Regions from separate parts of the Homo sapiens genome. Here regions 1 and 2 are each reported to be linked to region 3. Evidence: microRNA targets listed by miRTarBase, many of them from high-throughput screens and not tested one by one. Region 3 holds a microRNA gene; each other region holds the end of a gene's coding sequence.
What was found. The annotated mature microRNA hsa-miR-6838-5p reads AAGCAGCAGUGGCAAGACUCCU and lies in region 3 at 1,113-1,134, shown strand. An mRNA with a match to its seed (bases 2 to 7 or 8) in the 3' UTR can be bound and repressed. Matches are read on the target gene's strand: a 7mer-m8 pairs with bases 2 to 8, a 7mer-A1 pairs with bases 2 to 7 and ends in A, and an 8mer does both.

Region 1: the mRNA of JPT2 is a reported target of hsa-miR-6838-5p. Seed matches in the 3' UTR shown: 7mer-m8 at 2,274-2,280 and 7mer-A1 at 2,187-2,193.
Region 2: the mRNA of EIF4EBP3 is a reported target of hsa-miR-6838-5p. The part of its 3' UTR that is shown has no 7-base or 8-base seed match.

The regions. Positions count from the first base shown.
Region 1 is chr16:1,698,400-1,701,646 of GRCh38, reverse strand. JPT2 (Jupiter microtubule associated homolog 2) reads right to left here. Exons shown (of 5, transcript NM_144570.3): 5 at 1-2,836. The coding sequence ends at 2,649. Among named protein-coding and RNA genes, the nearest start is that of MAPK8IP3, 6.2 kb to the left of the region's middle.
Region 2 is chr5:140,548,592-140,551,792 of GRCh38, reverse strand. It overlaps EIF4EBP3 (eukaryotic translation initiation factor 4E binding protein 3), which reads right to left. Exons shown (of 3, transcript NM_003732.3): 2 at 2,717-2,887; 3 at 2,217-2,559. The coding sequence ends at 2,531. It overlaps ANKHD1-EIF4EBP3 (ANKHD1-EIF4EBP3 readthrough), which reads right to left. Exons shown (of 36, transcript NM_020690.6): 35 at 2,717-2,887; 36 at 2,217-2,559. The coding sequence ends at 2,556. It overlaps SRA1 (steroid receptor RNA activator 1), which reads left to right. Exons shown (of 5, transcript NM_001035235.4): 4 at 624-732; 5 at 882-1,725. The coding sequence ends at 1,093. Among named protein-coding and RNA genes, the nearest start is that of EIF4EBP3, 2.5 kb to the right of the region's middle. RefSeq lists an enhancer at 3,061-3,201.
Region 3 is chr7:44,071,294-44,074,540 of GRCh38, reverse strand. MIR6838 (microRNA 6838) reads left to right here and starts at 1,108; the gene lies at 1,108-1,163. It overlaps POLM (DNA polymerase mu), which reads left to right. Exons shown (of 11, transcript NM_013284.4): 7 at 11-143; 8 at 308-410; 9 at 516-758; 10 at 833-916; 11 at 1,164-2,479. The coding sequence ends at 1,250. RefSeq lists enhancers at 103-172, 243-442.

The sequences.
Region 1 (3,247 bases), not on the chromosome of region 3:
GTGGCATACAAGGGAAAAAAACCCGTTCATTTAAGTTACAGAAACAGAAAAAAAAAAACTGGCTTATTCCCACACTTACTCTACTCAAAGCTTTGAGAAGACTAATTTTGGCATCCTCTGGCTAAATACAAAACAACAAAACAAAACAAGGCAAACTCTTTCAGCAAGAGCTGTGGGGGAAGGGACTATAAGGGACACACACAACTGACAGGCAAAAGCTCTGAGCACGTGATTGCTAAGTTTAATTCAACTGTTACACCCCATTCTGCCTTGTAAAAATAACAAAACGCTCCTATCAAAATGACATTGTGATGTGAGTACAGGCTTTTTGTTTTGGTACAGCTCTAAAAAATGTTGGCACCGAATGCACTTAAGAAAAGTGTTAAGGCTTAATACAAATACAGAGACGAGTCATTTCTCAATGCAGCTTAGAGGGTGAGAACAGGATGCTAGGTTTTTAAATCTTCCAAATACAGGCAGTCCCCAACGTACAGACATACAGGACACCTCCCAAATGTAAACGACAGCCACACAGCAGGGCTTGCATGCGCAGGAACTCTTCTTCTCCCAGTGAGCAGACTAAGCACTCTGAATCCCACCCCACTGCCTCGCAGAGGGAAAGAAGGCAGGACAGATGCAAGAAGAGTAATGTCAGGGGCTCCATCACAGCTGCCCAGGGGCTTCTGCTGTAGTTCATATTTTCCTCATTCCCATCTCTGGTTTCTCCCATAACCCAGAAGTCCCTGCCAGGGGCGGAAGTAAAGAGCTTTTCCTCTCACCTAGCGGACTGCAAGGGCTGGGAGAATCACAGGGCCCAGTACCGTCACGTCCTATTTCTTCCTGGCAATCTGATTTGGAATTCGTGAATCATTTTCTCAATAAAAAAACAGAAGTTATAAATGGTAGTTCATTTCCACCATTAAACTGTTTCCTTTCAAGTTGCATCAATGACTTTGAAGCACAAACCACCTGAAGTGTGTGTAGAGTCACACAGAGTGTTTCTTGGCTCCAAAGTCTACAGGCAATCAAAAGGGGGAAGCTGTCTTTGGTTGACAAAGCCTTGTGCAGACCCCAGTGTGCCAGGTGTAGGAAGGGGAGCTTGGCAGGCGGCTCCTGCAGGCACTTAAGCAGTGAGGCAGCATGAGCCTGACTGAACATGGCTGCTGCTTTTCTGAAGTTTAATAATGATGATGTTTCTAGCACCAAGCATTAGCTTTGTAGGCACTCAGAGCAAAGCTGCTGCCGCCACCCAGACGTTCTCCTCTGTTAACAGATGCCCACCCAAGGGCAGCATGAGAACTGGGCCTGCAGCCCTTGAGGGGGATGGGCAGAGGCTTCTGCCTGAAGATGAAAGCACCACCACCTTTGCCATCCCATTAGCTGAGTGAGCAAAGCTCAGGGAATTGGACAGGTGTGACTTTGCTACTGAACTCCTTCATCTCCTGGCCTAAGGTCTCTAGTCTCTTCTGGAAGCTTGTTTGTGAGTTAGATCCAGAAGTTCTATAAAGCTTTGTAGAGGGTGGCCTCCACAGCTCTTCTTCCTCTTTGGTGTACCTGAACAATTGACTTTTTTCTGGAAAGGTGTCAGAAACAGACCAGAGTCAACAATCATTTATGTAAAGCTGGTATTTAAAATTTAGCTTTTTAGATATTATTAAAGAATCCAAACCTAAGAACCCAAGGTTCCCAAGCATCTCTTCTTTCCACCAACCAATTAAGGAATAAAGAAAGACACAGGAAGAATTTAAACAAGCCACTTACTCGGAAATATCTGAATAGATTTTTAAAGTCCCGCAGAGGTCAGCGGGCCTCATTTATGGGAAGAACTGTGACTTGTGAAGGGAACTGTCTACATCACTGGAGAACAACAAACGCCTAAACTTAAGGCTGATGAGAGGAAAAAAGCAAGAATTCACAAGCAAAACTGGCATGTAAAGGACCAAGACCAGCCCTGTGTGAAAGACAGGCAGATTCCAACATGAGATCAGATCAGGCCGAGGTTTCAGATGGCAGGAACTGGGCACTTCAGAGGGTCAGGGCACCAAAACAATCTTCCATGAAGTAGAAGACGGATAACTATTATTATTTGGTTTTTTGAAAGCTGCCGAGGAAAAGCAATCAAGATGTTTCAAGAAAAGACTACAGAACAATATGCTGGGGGTAAAATGAAGTGGGGATGCTGGATTTAGCAGCCGTGATCTCCAGAATGGAAGCGGTTCTGCTAAGAGGTCAATATACTGTTAGTGTTTCTGCTTACGCCTCCTCCATCCCACAGCAGCAGTGGACAGGCTGTTTTGGTTTCTTTCAGTCATTCCTAGACATCCAATCAGCTGGCGGGCTGTTGATCCAAGGACCATGCCCTGCCCCACCTCCCCACCCTCACCCCCCTTCCAGTTCCTCTCAAACCTGGACTACACATGAGTGATGGCCAGGGGTGCCCCATTTCATCCCCACAGAGGCATCTCCCAGCCATCTGGAAGGCACGGGTCTCCAAGCAGCTGTCATGACGGCCAGGAGACGCTGAGCAGCCAGGCTCACATAAGACTAACCCTCTTCCCACCCCGCTCATTTGGGCAAAAGGAAATGAAAACATGGCTACCCTATCTCTTGAGTTTCTGGTCTGGCTCCGGGTGGAGCAGTGGCTTCTCTTAGTAGAAGGAGATGCTGGATTTGCCTCCCGGTGGGTTCAGGACCTTGTTGTGAGAGCGAGGCCGCGGCCCCAGCCGGGGCTCATGGCTGTCGACTGTGGGCATGGGCTCCTGCTCCTTGGCGGGGCCTGCTTTTCTGGCGCTGCCTTTCTCACCTGGCTCTGCTCCAGCCGGGATGCTCCTTGCAGCTGTGGGACACAAAGTTAGAACAACATCCCATTAGAGGCAACCCATGACCCTGACAGGCAGGCTGTGGAAATAAAAAGTGTGTCATAGAGCAACCTGCAAGAAATTCATGCTGTAACTGGGAAAGAGAAGACAATATAGACAGGCTTTTCATCTGGTACCAAAACAACTCACTGTAATTAGCAGATGCAGTTTTGAAATGGGCATAAAGTTGGGGCTTGCTACTGTAAATACTCCTTGATTTCTTCCTAAGTGAATTGTTTCTTTATATTGCTTGTTAGACACCACTCCCATTTCTTCCATCTCAAGTATAGAAAGCAAGCCCCTGAGAGTGACCATGAGGCGGCGAGGGAATGCATCCTAGGTGAGGGCTTAGCAAGGCAAAGGCAGGCTCTGTTGCTGTTACCCTGGGC
Region 2 (3,201 bases), not on the chromosome of region 3:
TTTGAAGACCAATCAGTAGAAGATGCTGTGGGAACAAGAGTTGAATTCAGCTCCTATTAGTGAACAACCTGATTTTCTGTATCTCCATGCCATTCAGAGCAGAAGCTGCTGATTTTATTCTCAGGAAATTTATATTGTGCCCAGTTAGGGAGAAAGAAACCTCTTCTAGCTATAGTGTTTTCTTAGTTCTTAGAAAAAGAGATCTGAAGAATGTCTTAAAAGAAAGGGAAAGTAGCATGGTCATTTCACCTCTTTGGCGCTTAGTTTTCTTTTTGTGAAGTAACGCTACAGGATGAGCTTCTGAGAGTCTGAGAAGCCCCTGAAATTTTAGAATTCTAGTCATAGTAGGAGGTGGGTTAGGAAGACTGGTGGTGGGAAGATGAGAGAATTCCTGTTTAATGACCTCTACTTTTCAATGAAACATCAGGCAGTGTCAGAAGAAGACAGCAGGGAAAGGAAGGTTTCATCAGTTTCTCAGTGGGGCCTCTAATCTTTGGGTAAAGAACCAGAATTCTAAAGTGTGGGCCAGAGAAAGCAGGTGCTTCCTATGTGGTGCTGTCTTCCCCTCTCCTCCCCTCATTGGGCTGGCAGCACTGAATTGGAGGGGGGCTTCTGTCTCTTAGAAGCAGGTATGTGATGACATCAGCCGACGCCTGGCACTGCTGCAGGAACAGTGGGCTGGAGGAAAGTTGTCAATACCTGTAAAGAAGAGAATGGCTCTACTGGTGCAAGGTATGGGTGGGTTCTTTGGTATAGCCTAAATCCCTTTCCTGCTGTGGTTGGCTATGCTGGAGCAGGTGCTGAGATTTTGATTGACTGGGAGGGGAGGCATGGAAGCTCTTGTACCACAGGCTGCTTGCTCAACCCCCGTCTCTCTTCAGAGCTTTCAAGCCACCGGTGGGACGCAGCAGATGACATCCACCGCTCCCTCATGGTTGACCATGTGACTGAGGTCAGTCAGTGGATGGTAGGAGTTAAAAGATTAATTGCAGAAAAGAGGAGTCTGTTTTCAGAGGAGGCAGCCAATGAAGAGAAATCTGCAGCCACAGCTGAGAAGAACCATACCATACCAGGCTTCCAGCAGGCTTCATAATCCTCGGTTCCCCAGACTCACCGGACACCATCTCCTATGCCTTGGAGACCTTCTGTCACTTGGCTCCCTTCTTACCACCACCAAGACTGTCCCACTGGGCCTGACCCACCTATGAGGGAAGAAGTCCCACCTGGGCCAGAGGGAGTTCATGTGTTACTCATAACATGCATTTCAATAAAAACATCTCTGCGGTGGGCCTTGGGTAGGAGAGATGAACCCTTCCGGTGCCAAGCTAGTCCCCTCTGGTGTCCTCGACTGCCCTGCTCCCTGTGTATCTGCAAACCTCTGTTCTCCCTTCTCCATTCATCAGGAAGGGATCTGCTGGGTAAAGTCAGACTACTGCCTACCACTTTTTCCCAAAGTAGACTGAAAGCACATCCTGTGCTGGGCGGAGCAGCTGTGTTTGGATGGTTTCATTTCAGCATGAGAACAGACTCAAATAGAACGGGGAGACTTTTCCCTCAACAAAAGGAAAGACAGTCCTATTTGCACTGTATCACCCTTGAGATACTACTGTTACAGAGATTAGAACCACATTGAGTGGGGTTTTCTGTGTAAATCGAAGGAGAAAAAGACCAGATTACTGAGATTGGGGATTGTAACTCTGACTTGCCAAACAAACTGCTGCCTCATTTTGGGTTTCAGTGTGAACTCTAAGGTCTCTTGTAACCCTTTGAGAGAGGTACTTGGTGGACTATCATGCTGTGAGAAGGGTACAAGGTTTTTGGTGTTGGAATAGAGGAACTGGTGCTTAGAGGTGGGAAGCAGAAAAGGCACAGGGAGAGACAGGATGGCTATAGGCTGGGACAGCACCTCTTTTCCAAGAGTCCTGCTTTGGAATGGATAGGGGAGGGGCTGCTGGGGGGCCCTGGTTCCAGGAAGGCTGCTTCCTGGGAAGACAGGAACAGCCCTTGGCAGTGGCCAAGCTATTGCTGTTTATGGTTTGGAGGCTCATGTAACCTGCCACTGTAGCGTGCCTCAGGTTCTAATTGCTGCTGGAAGTGGGCCTGGTGGGAGCTGGGAATGATCTGAGGCCTCTGAGCTTAACCAGGCCTGCCAGGGCCTTCAGCTGTGTGGCTGAGATGAGAAAATCAGCATTGAGGAGAACACTGGAGCCAAGGCATTTCTTTGAATGTTTACTAAGCAGTCAGAAGGTGACTTACTCCATTCCCCAGTTCCAGCCCCTGAGCATAGAGGGTTTAGGGTTAGGAGGAGTACCACAGACTGAAGAGGAAGTAGAGTTAAGGGCTTGGCAAGTTGCCCACTCCTATCCCTGGTCTAGCTGCCTCAGAACTAAAGGAGGCCTGGAACTAACAAGTCACTCCCTTCCAGATTAGATGAGGCCAGCTGGCCTTTGGATGCCCCAGGAAGAGGTGGTGGCAGCAGTGGCATGAGGGATCCCTCTGTAACTCCACATGCCAGGTCATCTGCACTGGATTAGATGTCCATTTCAAATTGTGCGTCATCTGGAGAGAGAAAAGGCAGGAAGACAGGTTGCTGGTCTGAGGATCTGCAGGCTCAGCATCAGTGCAGAAACCCCTCTTGGAACTGAACCCCCGCACTGTGTCACAGTGGCATTTGAACTCAAAGGCTGGGACAATTCTTAATTCCTGCTTTCCTTACCGGGTATCTCTTCCTCTGTCTCCTGCTCCTTCAGCTCCTCCAGCTTGGAGAGAGGGGCTGTTGGAGGAGTTGTGACCCCGGGAATCTGAGGGAGGCAGCAGGGGGGTGTCCGGGCAATGGGTGAGTTCTTGCACTCCAGCAGGAACTTTCGGTCGTAGATGATCCTGGTGCCTGTCAAGGGGTTGGGACTGAGGTAAGAGTCAGGAGCTTGGGTACCGAGGTGACTGGGGTCCCAGACTCAGGCCTTTTGGGGCCTGGAGGTGAGGGTGGTGTCAAATTTCCCTGTGTATCAAAGGACATCGGCTCTGAAGCCCAGCTAGGTTCTCAGCAGACAAGCCTTCATAGTGCTTAAAATCTTCCAGACCTAACCAAGATGTGGGTATAAAGCAAGGGGGGCATCCCAGCTGGTATAGGCAGGGGCTTTATGTTTGGGAGAGCTTCAGATCTTGGCTCTAAGAGGAACACCAAACTTTGAGTTCAGGTAC
Region 3 (3,247 bases):
TTGCCCCCAGGGCTCCAGCACCACCAGGACCTGAGCACCCCAGTCCTGCGGTCCGATGTAGATGCCCTGCAGCAGGTGGTGGAGGAAGCTGTGGGGCAGGCCCTGCCTGGGGCCACCGTCACGCTGACCGGCGGCTTCCGCAGGTAAGAAGGCCCGACGTGCCCCTCTGGCTTGGCTTCAGACCCCTCCCCAGTGAAGGGACCTGAGTCGGGGACCCTGAAGCGGGCCCACTCGTTGGAAGGGATGTGGCCTGGGGCTGGAGTGAGCAGGCCGTGTCCCTGAGTCAGAGTCAGACTGACGCCCTCAGGGGGAAGTTGCAGGGCCATGACGTGGACTTCCTCATCACCCACCCCAAGGAGGGTCAGGAGGCGGGGCTGCTGCCTAGAGTGATGTGCCGCCTGCAGGACCAGGTGAGGGCCTCCCTGCTCCCCAAGAGCCACCGCTGGCCAATGCCACTGCCTCCTGCTCTCTCCACACCACCGGATGGTCTCAGCCACGCCCGCCTCTCCCCACAGGGCCTCATCCTGTACCACCAGCACCAGCACAGCTGCTGTGAGTCCCCTACCCGCCTGGCCCAACAGAGCCACATGGACGCTTTTGAGAGAAGTTTCTGCATTTTCCGCCTACCACAACCTCCAGGGGCTGCTGTGGGGGGATCCACGAGGCCCTGCCCATCCTGGAAGGCCGTGAGAGTGGACTTGGTAGTTGCACCCGTCAGCCAGTTCCCTTTCGCCCTGCTCGGTTGGACTGGCTCCAAGGTAGGCAGTGTGCCGCTGGGCCGCCTGGGGGTGGGGCTGGGCCAGCCCTGCTGAGGACAATCCCTTCCCTACAGCTTTTCCAGCGGGAGCTGCGCCGCTTCAGCCGGAAGGAGAAGGGCCTGTGGCTGAACAGCCATGGGCTGTTTGACCCGGAGCAGGTACATTGTTGGGGACTGGGGACAGCAAACAGCACCCATAGTCCGCTCCCTGACCCACAATCTGAAATGGCCCCAGACCCCTCCAGCCTGAAACCCATAGGACCCGAATCTGGGTCTCCACACACAGTTCCTGGCCCTCAAGAGCACACCCCACCTCGGCGCTGGGCTCTTCCCCACCCTCAGTCTTCCTGCAGGGAAGCAGCAGTGGCAAGACTCCTAGGTCACGGAAGTCCTGCTTCTGTTGCAGAAGACATTTTTCCAAGCGGCTTCAGAGGAAGACATCTTCAGACACCTGGGCCTTGAGTACCTTCCTCCAGAGCAGAGAAACGCCTGAGCCTGCCTGTGTCCCCCACTTCCACTCAGGAAATTGGGCTGCCCCCAACCTGGCCACTGAATGTCTCCAGGCAGATATGCTGCCCCCTGACCCCCACCTTCACCCCTCCCCGCCAAGGCCTGGCTCTTCCGGAGGTCAATTGTGCCTGCAGGATCAGTTGAGCCCCTGCTGGTGTGCTGCAGGGTGTGATGAGGTGGGAGCCCTCAGTGCCAGCCTCATCACTGTGTGACCCTGGGTCTGCTCTTAGCCTCCCCATGGCTCACGTTCCTGCCCTGGATGGGATGTGAGTGGGGCCCACATCGTGGAGCTGTGGTGGGGCCTGCAGTCATGAATGGCAAGTGGTCCCTGATGTGCAGTGTCTCATTAGTTGCACTGCAGTTAACTGTGGCTCCTGCAGGGCACCCTGCCCAGAATGCCCAGAAGAGAACCATGCATACCTGCACTGCATTTGAGAGCCATGAGCTGGAGGCTGTGGTTCGTGCCAGCAAGGAGCCTACTGTCTGGTGTGCTGTAGGCATCTGGAGAGGGAGAGGGCCTGGGTAGGAGCTGGGAGGAAGATAATTTTCAACTATGGGGCTTCAGTACTGCAGCGCCCCGAGCCAGGCTCTGTGCTTCTGCCTTTAAGGCCTGTTCTCAGCACAATGTCTCAAAAATAGGTCATATCCTGCCACTCCCGTCGCAGAGCCCTTTAATGGTTCCAAACCCTAAGTCCACACATAGCCCCTGGCTCTGGCATCTCTCCAGCCCCACTGGCCCCGAGCTGCTTGACTCACCGGCTTCCTATTTGATGCACCCAGGCCCCCTTGTGGCCAACTCCCTCCCCTTCTCACTGAGGCAGAAGCACTGAGGTGGGCTGGACATGGGTGCCCTCCACGTCCCTCATATCCCCAGGCACACTCTGGCCTCAGGTTTTGCCCTGGCCATGTCATCTACCTGGAGTGGGCCCTCCCCTTCTTCAGGCCTTGAATCAAAAGCCACTTTGTTAGGCGAGGATTTCCCAGACCACTCATCACATTAAAAAATATTTTGAAAACATGCAGTAAAGTTGACTCTTGGGGTGCAGTTTTTGCACACGTAGGGCACACCAGGTCCATCCCCAGAACACTTCCCATGCTGTCCTATTGTGGTCATGTGCTTCTCCACCCCCACCCACTTAGCGGTGCTACATCCCTATAGTTTTGCTTTCTCTAGAATGTCATGTAAATAGAACCAAACTATATTTAACCTTTGGACTGGCCTCTCCCCACAGCCTAATGCCTTTGACGTTCCTGCAGGTTGCTGGGTATGTTGAGTTTGTAATTTGTTCCATGCCATGGGTGTTCTACAGTTTATCCATTCAGGTGTTGAATGTCTGGGTTGTGGCCGGATGCCGTGGCTCATGCCTGTAATCCTAGCACTTTGGGAGGCTGAGACGGGTGGATCACTTGAGGCCAGGAGTTTGAGACCAGCCTGGCCACCATGGCGAAACCCCATCTCTACAAAAAATACAAAAATTTGCTGGGCATGTTGGCTCATACCTGTATTCCCAGCTACACGGGAGGCTGAGGCATAAGAATTGCTTGAACCTGGGATGCCAAGGTTGCAGTGAGCTGAGATTGTGCCACTGCACTCCAGCCTGGGCGACAGAGCAAGAGTCTGCCTAAAAAGAAAAAAAGTCTGGGTTGTTTCCAGGGTTTGGAGATGATGAATCGTACTGCTACAGACATGCATGTACAGGTTTTCGTGTAACACATGGGTCTTCATTTCTCTTGGGTAAATAGGCACAGGATTACTGGGTCATTTGGTAAGTATATGTTTATTTCATAAGAGCCAAGTTGTTGTCCCGAGTGCGTCTGTCATTTTGCAGTCCACCAGCGTTGTGAGCACCCCTGTAAGTTAAACACCACAGTAGGCAGTTGCTCTGTATCCCTGTCAGCACTTGATAGTTGCAGTATTTGTTAACTTTAGCTTTTCTAGTAGTAGGTACATAACAGTAGCTCACTGTGGTTTTATTTTCA